Regions from separate parts of the Homo sapiens genome. Here all the other regions are reported to be linked to region 4. Evidence: microRNA targets listed by miRTarBase, many of them from high-throughput screens and not tested one by one. Region 4 holds a microRNA gene; each other region holds the end of a gene's coding sequence.

Region 1 (3,081 bases), not on the chromosome of region 4:
GATTATGCCAACAGCTTGAATGGATTCTAACAGACTCTTTTGTTTTTAAAAGTCTGCCTTGTTTATGGTGGAAAATTACTGAAACTATTTTACTGTGAAACAGTGTGAACTATTATAATGCAAATACTTTTTAACTTAGAGGCAATGGAAAAATAAAAGTTGACTGTACTAAAAATGTATACTTGTTGCCAGGAAGGTGACCTCAAAAATTAAAAGTATAATTATTCGGCCGGGCATGGTGGCTCACACCTGTAATTCCAGCACTTTGGGAGGCCAAGGCAGGCGGATCACGAGGTCAGGAGTTCAAAACCAGCCTGTCCAATATAGTGAAACCCCGTCCCTACTAAAAAATACAAAAATTAGCTGGGTATGTGGCATGTGCCAGCTACTCAGGAGACTGAGGCAGGAGAATCATGTGAACTTGGGAGGCGGAGGCTGCAGTGAGCCCAGATGGCATCACTGTACTCCAGCCTGGGTGACAGAGTGAGACTCTGTCTCAGAAAAAAAAAAAAAAAAAAAAAAAAAAAAAAAATATATATATATATATATATATATATATATATATATATATATAAATAAAGTATTCAATCAAGAAACTGCTGTATTAATTTAGGGAAATGATTGATTGATAGTCTCATAAGTCAAATTTTCATCACATAATTTTAAGCTCCATTCTTTTCCATATACAGAAAACTACCCGTGGGGAAGAAACTGGTGAAATGGGATCCCTCCTCTACCAAATTCTGCCTTCTAGAGCTAGATAGATAGATAGGGAATTTTGCTTCTCTCCAAATTTCAAGTTTGGTTAAGTTCTTGGAACTCAAAGTGTGAAAATTTTATGAAGTAAAATTATTTAACTCTGTGTATATTAGGTTAAATAAAAATAAAACTTAAAAAGACAAGCTTAGGGTGCTGCATTGGCTTGTTGCATCTACCTTCTAAACTTTACCCTGAAGGCTGCTGGAAAAAAAGTAAGTTATGCTGAGTCCAAGTTTCCTGAGTAGCAGAAAAGTATTGATAAATTTTATCTGTTGCACTTTTTAACAAAACAAAAAGCATCTGCCAACCACAGAACATTGCAACACCTAGGCCCTGGGCTTTCCCCCAGCATTCATTCACTAGCACCTCATGTTTTGGGGGCACAAGCACAGGGCTTTCTTAGGCTGTAAAATCACCTATATCATCTGTCTGTCCACTGCTTCAACTCCTTCTGCAGTATCCCTGCAACAATATTACATGCTTATGAAATGCTGCAGACAGGGAATTCCTGTCCTTCTAGGATCCTCTTCTGGCTGTGGGCAGCTTTACCATAAGTTCTTGTCTTCTTATGCTGAAATTGATTTCATTTTCATCTTCACGTATTATTGCTTCTTTGCTCTCTCGGTGTCCAACTGAGTCTCATCGCTCTCCCTTCTAATACTCCTTCTGTCATCTATTTTGTCTTTTCTTCTTCAGACTGAAAATCCCTGGTAGTACCTGTAGTTTCCTTCCAGGACACGATTTTTAGTCTGTTCCTTCAATTGCCCTGTTGTAAAGATCAGAAGTGCAGAGTGAAACCAGTTCTTCCCTTGTTCTCGATACTAACTCTCAAACAATACAGTCTACTTAAGCTGTTTTGGCACAAGCATCACAGATATTTGAAGCTTACAGAAACCAGAACCTCTAAGTCTTTTCATACCTGCTACTGTTTAGCCACATCTCTGCTCTGATCTTCTGTTGCTGCTCAATAGTTTCCTGGACCCAAGGAAAAGAACTGACCTACTCGTCGAAACTTCATCTTACTGTTTGGCCCACCATTCCAACCTTTTAAAAATTACTAGTAATTCAGTTAGTTACTTAAGACTAAATAGGGTCAGGCGCAGTGGCTCATGCATGTAATTCCAGCACTTTGGGAGGTCGAGGCGGGCAGACCACTAGGTCAGGAGATGGAGACCATCCTGGCTAACACGGTGAAACCCCATCTCTACTAAAAAAAAAATACAAAAATTTAGCCGGGCATGGTGGCGGGTACCTGTAGTCCCAGCTACTCGGGAGGCTGAGGCAGGAGAATGGCGTGAACCCGGGAGGCGGAGCTTGCAGTGAGCTGAGATCACGCCACTGCACCCCAGCCTGGGCGACAAAGTGAGACTCCATCTCAAAAGAAAAAAAAAAAGACTAAATAATGTGGACACAACATGATATTAGGCTTTATTTGAATTTAAAATCTTGATTCCATCCAGGGACATTTTTTACCGAAGCGTCTCAGAGACTGGCTCAGGGTATTTCTTGACAAGACTGTACAGGGCTTCTCATCATACACAAACCCTCCACAGCCCACGGCTCCAACCCACAGCACCTCCTGCAGTCCTGGAGGGAAAAGGGACAGTAACATGAAGTGTCTGAAGATCCATTTCACCTCTTTTCCATGTGAATCATGACGCTTTCAATGCATTTCTTGACAGGATTCTATTTTGAAAGAATGATGCTCAATCTGTACCTTTTATGCTTCTTGTTTCTTCTCCATCAATAATATGTCAGTCAACTGCTTGTCAGAGACACTTAGCTGCTGACAGGTCCTCATAACCTGACTCAGGTAAACTGCCAAGAGATGCTTGCACTGGAATATAAAACACACACACCTATTAGAAACAGGCAGGGCCAGGGCTGGCCAGTCTAACCAAGATTTCTCATTACCATCTTATTTGGCAGGAGAAGACTAGAGCATACAGATTACGGGGTCTCTAACTGATTGTCTAAAAAGTGCAGATGGGCCGGGCATGGTGGCTCACACCTGTCATCCCAGCACTTTGGGAGGCTGAGGCGGATGGATCACTTGAGATCAGGAGTTCGAGACCAGTCTGGCTGATATGGCAAAACCCTGTCTCCACTAAAAATACAAAAATTAGCTGGGTGTGGCGGTACATGCCTGTAATTCCAGCTACTCAGGAGGCTGAGCCATGAGAATCGCTTGAACCCAGGAGGTGGAGGTTGCAGTGAGCCGAGATCACGCCACTGCACTACAGCCTGGGTGACAGAGCCAGACTGTCTCAAAAAATAAATAAATAAAAACTGCAGATAAAGATGATGAGACAGGAGTATTCT
Region 2 (3,081 bases), not on the chromosome of region 4:
ACAATAAAGTTTACTAAAAAACAGTATTAGGGTTTATTTGGAGTTAACTCCCTTAGTAATTGCTACAGCTTCCATAATTAACTGGAGGTCAGCAGTAAAATAATTTTGTGATTATAACAGTAAGCCAGGTTCACCAGAGGAAATGTGGAATACCTAAGTATAAAGCAGCAAAGAAATGTCACCTGTAGTCCCATTATTCAGCGGGTGAGTATATAACAACGAAATACTTTTTCATTTACCAAGTATTGTGTTTTGCATGGATTAACTCCTTTATTCTAACTGCAGAAGACACTTATCCTCATAATTGAAACTGAGGCACAGAATTTAACTTGGCCTACATTCTCTATATTCATCAAATTGAAATTATAGTTATTATAGCTTATATGCCACTTTGTAATATACTTTTGTCTACTTCAAACAGCATGATACATTTCACAACTTTAGTCACATATTTCATGTTACAGGATATTTTTGAGTTTTATCATTATATAAATAACACTATGAGGATTTCTGAATCCAAATCTGGCCAAGTCTTATTTTGCTAAAATCATTTCCTAGGAGCTAAGCATAGAAAACTCTTCTATGCTATTTAGTATATTAACCAAAACCTTTAGAGGTAAAGAGACTGCCAGGTGATCCACATCAGTGATTCTTGGTTTCTAGACCTCTGAGAATATGTGAGATACAGATCCCCTGAAGCCTATCCATAGAAAGTCCTTTTTGGATCAAAGAGATTATAGAACTCTATTTGTTGATAAAGACCAAGGAGCTTCGTGTGTTTCTAATGTTTTCTAAGGACTGGATGGTTTTTAGTTCAATAGCTTTTAGGGGTACAAGTGGTTTTGGATTACACGGATGAATTGTATAGTGGTGAAGTCTGAGATTTTGGTGTACCAGTCACCTGAGTACTATATATTGTACCCAGTATGTAGTTTATCCTTCCCCCTTCCCTGTTCCGGGTCTCCAGTATCTGTTATACCACTCTGTGTGCTTACCTGTAGCTTAGCTCCCACTTAAAGTGGGAACATTTGGTATTTGGTTTTCCATTCCTGAGTTACTTCACTAAGAATAATAGCTTCCAATACTATCCAAGTTGCTGCAAAAGACATTTTTTATGGCTAATATTCCATGGGATATATATACCACACTTTATCCATTCATTGGTTGATGGGTACTTAGGTTGGTCCCATATCTTTTATTATGAACTGTCTAGCCAGTTTTTAAATAGAAAAGTACTGATTAGGTGAACAGTTCCTTAGGAATTAAATTGTGAAGGGGAGGGGACACAGCAGAGAAGTAATCTGTTGGTTCTTTTGAGATATTGAATACATGTCCCAAATTTGCTAGCTGCTTAACTAGCAAGTTAACCCAAACTGTCAGAGTAACTGAAGCAAATATGTCCAACTGGGACATAAGGAACATGAGATTTGTGTAATAAGTAGGTTATCTAACGTGTTCATGTGTCTAACACTTTCTAGCTATTTTCAAGACAGACTTAATCAATACTGTGTTTGCTTTCCAATTTAATCTGTTACAAATACATATGAAGAATCTAGTTGGTACAGGCTCAGGGAGGATAGAAAGATAGGTACACAGATTTGTCCTGTTAGGATCCTACCATTAGGAAGGATTAGGAAGAGAAGCCCTCCATGCCCATACTCTGCAAGGGAGAACAAGGTAAGAGCCACAGGAGGGAACAAAATGCTATGGGGACTCAGTAGGGATAGGTCAGAACAGGCTGGATCCTGCAAAGCTTATTACTGAGCTGGGCAACAACGAGCATGATCAGACAAGGCTGGAGAAAGTCATACAATTTTATGATGCCAGTTTAGTGAATATTAAACTCTTGATGTAACCATTTAAACAATTTCAAGAGGTCTCTCACAAATAGATGTACAAAAGTTGAATTAGCACGTCCAAAGCCATGTGGTTTTGAGGCTAATTCCTTGTTACATAATTTTTTTTTTTTTTCCCCTCGAGACAAGAGTCTGGCTCTGTCGCCCAGGCTGGATCTTGGCTCACTACAACCTCCGCCGCCCGGGTTCAGGCGATTCTCCTGCCTCAGCCTCCTGAGTAGCTGAGACTACAGGCACGCACCACCATGCCCAGCTAATTTTTGTATTTTTAGTAGAGACGAGGTTTCACCATATTAGCCAGGCTGGTCTGGAACTCCTGACCTTGTAATCCACTCACCTCAGCCTCCCAAAGTGCTGGGATTACAGGCGTGAGCCACTGCACCCACCACATTAACTTTTTATTACTTAACATATCTGAGCACTTCCTGTGAGCCAGGCACTATGGGAGATTAAAAAGCATTAAATGTGGTCCCTGACATTATTGTGAAGCTCTGAGAAGATGTCATGCAAAGACACTTGCCTATGTGCCACTGCCACCCTCTGCCCTGCTCTTTGGGTCAAGGTACCTCCAAGCGCCTCACTCCTGCAGCTGCATTTTTTTTTATTTATTTTTTTTTTGAGATGGAGTCTTGCTCTGTCACCCAGGCTGGAGTGCACTGGTGAAATCTCGGCTCACTGCAACCTTCGCCTCCCGAGTTCAAGTGATTCTCCTGCCTCAGCCTCCCAAGTAGCTGGGACTACAGGTATGCGCCACCACACCTGGCTAATTTTTGTATTTTCAGTAGAGAAGGGTTTCACCATGTTGGCCAGGCTGGTCGTGAACTCCTGACCTCAGGTGATCTGCCCACTTCGGTCTACCAAAGTGTTGGCATTACGGCGTGAGCACCTGGCCACGCAGCTGCAATCTTAGGCCCATCATTCCACTGAGTTCCGAAGAATATAGCCTTTTCCTGAAGAAACTCCTTTCTTCAATGCTTCAGGCCAGTTGTGAGTCTCTAAGTAAGTGGACAGGATATCAAACACTGTTAGAGAGTAAACAGAAAACACAGTGACCACAGAGGGAAAAAAAGAACGAGTAAATGAAAAGGATGTTCTGTAATATTTCGTTCAACAAACCTATTCTGCACCATATGTGGTACTAAGGTCTTGCGGGGAGAGGCAAGGACACAGGCTCTGCTTGCTCTCAAGGACCTCAGCCTACCCTGAAAGATACAGGCCTATGAAT
Region 3 (3,081 bases), not on the chromosome of region 4:
GCAGGCAGCCCTGGGGGAAATGCTGCCCTCCCCACCCCCCAGGGCTCTGAGTGTGGAGGGCAGGGGCAGGAATGGCGTCCCTCAGGAGCCAGCATGGCCCTGGAGCCCCCGAGTCCCTGAGGAAAGTGTTGATGCCCTCCAGCATGGGGCTCCTTCTCATCCTGTACGCCCGGCTGCCACCCAGCCTGGTGGGCCAGGCAGGCAGGTGGATAGGGTGGGCAGGCCGGGCAGGGGGGCAGGCGGTCAGGCAGCCCTCTCCCACAGTCCTCATCGACGGCGTGGAGTGCAGCGACGTCAAGTTCTTCCAGCTGGCCGCGCAGTGGTCCTCGCACGTGAAGCACTTCCCCATCTGCATCTTCGGACACTCCAAGGCCACCTTCTAGCCCCACCCACCAGGGGGCCCACCTCCTGCCCCATGCTGTGAGGGGCCCAGCTGCATTTCTGTTAACATTTCAGTTTACTACAGAGACAGACGCTTAAAACACAAAGAGAAACAGTCTTAAGTATGAATGTGCTCACAACGTGGAAACTAACGGGGGAGCTCCTGCCAGGAGCCGAATAACTGCTCTGCTTATTAACCCGAACGTTCGGCCCGGGGCTGGGAAGCCAGAAGGACGATGCTGAGCCATGGATCGCGGAAGGCGTCCTCTGGCCTCAGGAGCCACCCAGAGCCTCACAGGCTGAGTTCTTGCCTCTGTGTCCTGTCCTTCCTGGAAGTCAGGACTCTGCTTCCTCAGGGAGCCCGGGGAAGGCGGAGCTCAGTGGCCACAGGCCGAGGGCCATGGGGCCGCTCAGTCCCGTTGGGGTTGTCCTGAGTTGAGCCTGGGGGGGCCGTCCTGCCCGCCTAAGAGATGCCCCCAGCACCGCACACTCGTGGTTCCCAATAAACTCCTGCCTGCGGCGGAGGTTTTATAGCAGCAGATATTTTTAATGCTTTTCAATACATGTTCTAATGTAGCTGCCAAACATGTTGCTCTTCTGAAGTCCCCCTGGGGCTGGGCAGAGCCAGCAGAGCCTGCCCCCACTTCCCCAGCCCCTGCCCCACCCCGCCTCACACCTTCCCCACTCTCAGGCTGTTCTTGAAACACCATGAGGCTTCTGCGTGTAGTCCCTGCCCCAAACTTAGCAAGCACAGGGGCCTCCACAGCCCAGGTGGCCCCAGAAAATGTTCCAGAGCCCAGCTTGGTACATAGTGAGATGCTGCTGGGGTTGGCCTGAGGTGGGGGCCACTTCCTCCACCCCAGTGGGTATGTCTGAGGTCAGCCATGGGGATATCTGGGTTGAGATTCAGGTTTTGGTGAATATGGGGCAGGCGTCCAGATGTGTTTGTGTCACCTGCTGCAACGCTGTAGCCAATGAAGATTCCAGCGGGATGGCCTGACCAGCGGGGCCGGCACTTTGGAGCCGTGGGTGCAGCCAGGTACCCCGTGCAGGGCCTGGGAGGCTCTCCAGGCCACAGTCCTCAGAGCGTGTTGGGTCCCATGTTGTGTGTGGGTTCCATGCCCTCCACACAGCAGGAGAGGGCTTCCCTGACCACACCTGCCCCCTCAGTCCTGCTTCTCCCCAGTAAGCCTGCACTGTGGGGTCTCCATAGGAGGAGCTGGGGAAGCTGGGGCCCTCCCAGGGGTCCTGATCGACCCTGGGGGCTCTTGGCCTGGTTTCGTAAGATGGAGCACTGCAAAAGGCCATGCTCAGAAAGCAAACGCAGGGCAGGGTGGGCCTCGAGCCGGGGCTGGAGGGGTCTCCACCCTTGCTGGCCTGAGAGATGGCCCACATTTCTTACTTGTGACCGCCCTGCTCTTCCTGGCCGCCCCCCCCAGGTGGCTGAACAGGGTGATTTTGTTGTGGTGAGGGGCCAGGATGTGGCCTGGTGTGCAGCCTCAGCTCCCTGGGTTCAGGCCTCAGAGGTAGCCTGTGTGCAGGAGGCAGAGCCCCAGCCCCTCCCAGCCAGAGCCCCTCCACACCAGGGACTCCTCCTTCACCTGGGACCAGGAGCCTGGGGCACACCCCAGGGTGGGGGAGAGGGTAGGAAGGTCTCCCATTGAATCCTGGCTTCAGGCTCTGCCCCGAGAAGTGTCTGCGGTGAGGGTGTGAGCCCCGGGCTGATGGCCTCTGACCCCGGCAACAGGTGGGACCCTGACTGACTCGTTCAGCTGCCCCCAAGCTGGGCTGCAGAGCATCTGTTTTTCTGCTCTCCAGTTTCTTTTCTTTTTTTTTTTTTTTTTTTTTGAGATGGAGTCTTGCTCTGTTGCCCAGGCTGGAGTGCAGTGGCATGATCTCAGCTCACTGCAGCCTCCGTCTCCCAGGTTCAAGCAGTTCTCCTGCCTCAGCCTCCCGAGTAGCTGGGATTACAGGCGTGTGCCACCACACCTGGCTATTTTTTTTGTATTTTTAGTAGAGATGGGGTTTTGCCATGTTGGCCAGGCTGGTCTTGAACTCCTGACCTCAAGTGATCCACCCGCCTCGGCCTCCCAAAGTGCTGGGATTACAGGCGTGAGTCACCGCGTCCTGCCTGCTCTTCCTGTTTCTTTCCCAAGGGTCACACTCAGTAGGGAGATGAAGGTGGAAACATCCTTGCTGTGGCTTTCTGGCCTCAGAGCAGGTTTTAGAGGAAGGGGCCACAGGCTGCCTAGTGCATCCTGGCTGTGGGCAGCCCCTTTCCTGGAGCCCTCCTGCCTACCCCGTACCTCCCATCTGGCTGCACAGCTCCATCCTTAGCCACGCAAGGGGAGAACATGGGCAGAGTCTCCATCCAGCAGCTGGGGGTTCTGGTGGCACTCCCTGTGCCCCTGCTGCTGCTGGGCTGTGGGTCTGCCCTGCACCCAGGAGCCCCACGGTCCATCCCCCACACCATGCCCAGCACCAGGGAGGTTGGGCAGACAAGACCTGGGCCATGCCAGCCCTCTGTGCCTCGGTTTTCCCACTGGTTACACAGGATGGTCGCATTTTCCCTGCCTACCTCACAGAGCTGTTCTGAGGGTGCATGGAGGAGCACTCTGTCCCACCAAGGACAACTAGAAACCAAAGCCATCTGACAGCCAGTGCGGTAAGGGCGGGGGATGTGTGTGTGAGGTGTGCACA
Region 4 (3,081 bases):
CCTACAATGCACAGGACAGCACCCCAAAACCAAGAATTATCTGGTTCAAATGCCACTAATGGCCCAGATGAGAAACCTTGAAACCTCGATTGATTGCTTTTTTAACAGGTGTTGGAAAATCACTTTTTAAGCAAAAAATTCACATTTTATTAAGGATATTAATATAACCCTTTCAGGGGTCCTCTAAAAATCTTTAGCAGTATCCTCTGATTGCAGTCAAATAATTATTAACCAGATGTTTTATTTAAGGGCTATTCTTGGGTATGATTCTGACCAATTTATTTTTTCTTTTCCAATTTTTATTTTAGGTTCGGGGGTACATGAGCACATTTGTTACATGGATAAATTGCACGTTACTAGGGTTTGCTGTACAAATGATTTTGTCACCCAGAAAAACTTTGATTGAGAGAAAAATCAGTAAATTATCCCAATTTGTAATTCAGTCAATAGGTTCCAAACTGTTCTTCTATTTGAATTCTCCACCCATCCAAAATGATAACTTATCAGGGAAAAAAAATCCTGTACATTTCAACAACTGCAATTTTTTTCATTCTTTGTTTTTCCTTCCCCAAAGCAATATTAAACAGGCCATCACACGTGGCCTAGATATGGAGAGAGGACTATTCACTCATTATCAAACGTGTTAACGTGGTTTTTAAACAGCAGCTTGCAACTAATCTAACAACCCTCTTTTCCTAGACTTTCACATTCAGTGGGCAGTAGAGGGTGTCAGAGCAATAGGCCCAGCTTGAAAACCTTATATTCTCATAATGCCCTGCATAAGCCATCTCATAACACACATTAAATTTGATGCTGTTTTTTTTTTTTAACATCTGGCTATCTCATGAGACTACAAGCACTGTTAGGACATACAGTCTCGTGAGATAGCCAGATGTTAAAAGATAACATACGATATATGTTTTTGTTCACCACTGTATCTTCAGGCTCTAGCACACTGCCTGGCATTATAGACATAGAAAAAATATTTAATGAAGTGATAAAGATTTTAAAAATTCATTCCTGAGAGTCATCAACCTTATCTTCTGTTCTAATAATCAACTCTTTTAAAACATACTTATTTTTAAAATATACAACAATATGTATTTCTGGAAGCTCCATCAAGAAGCAAGTTCTACCTTTTCTTTGTAGGTCCTGACTTCTGATAAAGTAAATATCATTAATTTCCCACATAGGAGTATTAAGTGCATAGTCCTTTATTGCCCTTGGGAATAAATGTTTTGTAACATAATGAACATAAGATGTAATTAAAAGAACTAAATTTTGAAATATCTTCACAAATTCACTTTAAAATAAAAACAAAATTTGTAGTCATATGTCCTTCTCTCTCACACACACACTCTTAATTCCACTTGAGAAATACCCAAGGGTTTCTTCTACACATTTGGAGGATTCTAACTTTGAAGAGTCAGATCTAGCTAAACTCAAGATATTCCAATCTGGTCCACTGCCTCTTTCTACATAGGCCATGAGCTAAGAATGATTCTTACACTTTTAAATGTTTTTTAAAGGAGAATATTTTTAATATTTAGTAGTTACATGAAATTCTAATTTTACTGTTAATATTTATTGGAACATGATCATTTGTTTACATATTGTTTACGGCTGCTTTCATTTTACAATGGCAGATTAAGTAGCTGCAAGAGTCTGTATGGCCTGCTTTGCTATAGGTAGAAGCCAGCGGCCCTAATTTATCCCCAGATGGAAACATAATCCCAGTGTGGTGCCATAATCCTAGTGTAGTGGTTTTATAGAAATTTCCTACAAATTCTTTAACAGGTCTACCCTTTGGCAGGTGGGGTCTACATGTCCCCCTGTCCCCACTGCTTAAATCTGGGTAGGCTTATGATGGCTTCTACTAGTGGAGTACAGAGAAAGTGATACTACGTGACTCCTAAAGCTAGGTCATAAAAGGACATGCCTGTCTCTTGGAACGCTTACTCTTGGTAGCTGTCAGCTACGCAGCTGTAAGAAGTCCAAGACACATGGAGAGGCCACAGTCAGTGCTTAGTTGGCAGCTCCCCAGCTTAGCATGTCTTCCAAGTCATCCCAGCCCAAGTTGTGGCATGAACCAAGAAACTTCCAGATAATTTCAGCCCCCAGAGTAGCCCCTTGATGAAGCCATGGACATCATGAAGCAGAGATAAGCCATCCTTGCTGTGCCTGGTCAAAATCCTGACCCACAGAATTTGTAAGCATGTTTGTTTATGCCACTAAGTTTTGGGTGGTTTGTTATGCAACAACAGAAAACTGGAAAATGCAGGATCAGCTGAATTCCATCCTAGGATATACATATTGAAGCAGGTGAAACAAAGCTCCTAAATGTAGGCACTGCATCTAAATCATCAAAATTATCAAGATTGTACCCTGTGAGTTGTAAATCTGTTGCAAAGAGATTTCAGGGTTCTTCAGAAAATTTTAATAGCTACCAGGACCTTACAGTGTGGGTATTCTCATTTTATATCAATGAGTTAAGTGATGAGCCCAAAGCCACAAAGTAAGTGGAAGAGCCATTCACTTATACAAATTCAAAGTCTGTGTGCTCATGCACTCGCTGCGGTGCCTCAGACAAACCAAACCTAAAAGAAGCTGCAATGGTGGCTTGAAATATTAAAATATGACAAATCACACAGGCTGAGAATTTCTGTTAACATAATCAAACAAGGCAAAGAGCAGAATGTTAAAAGGTCCTCAACTCTGGGCTGGCTGTGGAACTGAATCTTCCTTGGGATTGCAGGGTGACTGGTTGATGGGAGAGCAGCCCTGGCAGAGGTGTGTTTTACTGGGGGATCGGGGTAGAATGTCTGCCTTTGCCTTCCTGGTTAGGGTGGGCCTTCAGCTGCATTCTTCATCAATAGAGACAGAAAGTACCAAGAATACAGAGTCCAAACACCTATGGCACTTCACAAAAGGTGTCAAATCCATGCTCTGTCTACTTGGATTCACAGCTGTCAGTCAGAAATTCCCCAGTCTTTCATGTAGCAACATTCTATCTTGCCTTACTAAGAAAAATGCCAACATCTGCTGAGTGCCAACTATGTACAAGTCACAATTTTAGGCCTC

The links. The annotated mature microRNA hsa-miR-4794 reads UCUGGCUAUCUCACGAGACUGU and lies in region 4 at 872-893, opposite strand. An mRNA with a match to its seed (bases 2 to 7 or 8) in the 3' UTR can be bound and repressed. Matches are read on the target gene's strand: a 7mer-m8 pairs with bases 2 to 8, a 7mer-A1 pairs with bases 2 to 7 and ends in A, and an 8mer does both.
Region 1: the mRNA of ZSWIM7 is a reported target of hsa-miR-4794. Seed matches in the 3' UTR shown: 7mer-m8 at 1,938-1,944 and 7mer-A1 at 1,288-1,294.
Region 2: the mRNA of TRMT10B is a reported target of hsa-miR-4794. Seed matches in the 3' UTR shown: 7mer-m8 at 2,616-2,622 and 7mer-A1 at 1,988-1,994.
Region 3: the mRNA of PACS2 is a reported target of hsa-miR-4794. Seed matches in the 3' UTR shown: 7mer-A1 at 605-611 and 7mer-A1 at 1,946-1,952.

The regions. Positions count from the first base shown.
Region 1 is chr17:15,975,568-15,978,648 of GRCh38, forward strand. It overlaps ZSWIM7 (zinc finger SWIM-type containing 7), which reads right to left. Exons shown (of 5, transcript NM_001042697.2): 5 at 993-2,596. The coding sequence ends at 2,480. It overlaps ADORA2B (adenosine A2b receptor), which reads left to right. Exons shown (of 2, transcript NM_000676.4): 2 at 1-179. Among named protein-coding and RNA genes, the nearest start is that of ZSWIM7, 23 kb to the right of the region's middle. RefSeq lists an enhancer at 2,986-3,081.
Region 2 is chr9:37,777,398-37,780,478 of GRCh38, reverse strand. TRMT10B (tRNA methyltransferase 10B) reads right to left here. Exons shown (of 9, transcript NM_144964.4): 9 at 1,507-2,878. The coding sequence ends at 2,772. It overlaps EXOSC3 (exosome component 3), which reads left to right. Exons shown (of 4, transcript NM_016042.4): 4 at 1-765. Among named protein-coding and RNA genes, the nearest start is that of EXOSC3, 6.1 kb to the left of the region's middle.
Region 3 is chr14:105,394,290-105,397,370 of GRCh38, forward strand. It overlaps PACS2 (phosphofurin acidic cluster sorting protein 2), which reads left to right. Exons shown (of 25, transcript NM_001100913.3): 25 at 265-3,081. The coding sequence ends at 383. Among named protein-coding and RNA genes, the nearest start is that of TEX22, 2.7 kb to the right of the region's middle.
Region 4 is chr1:64,577,667-64,580,747 of GRCh38, reverse strand. It overlaps MIR4794 (microRNA 4794), which reads right to left and starts at 901; the gene lies at 825-901. The region is part of intron 2 of CACHD1 (cache domain containing 1); the gene reads right to left. LOC124904195 (a long non-coding RNA gene) reads right to left here. Exons shown (of 2, transcript XR_007066150.1): 2 at 904-3,081.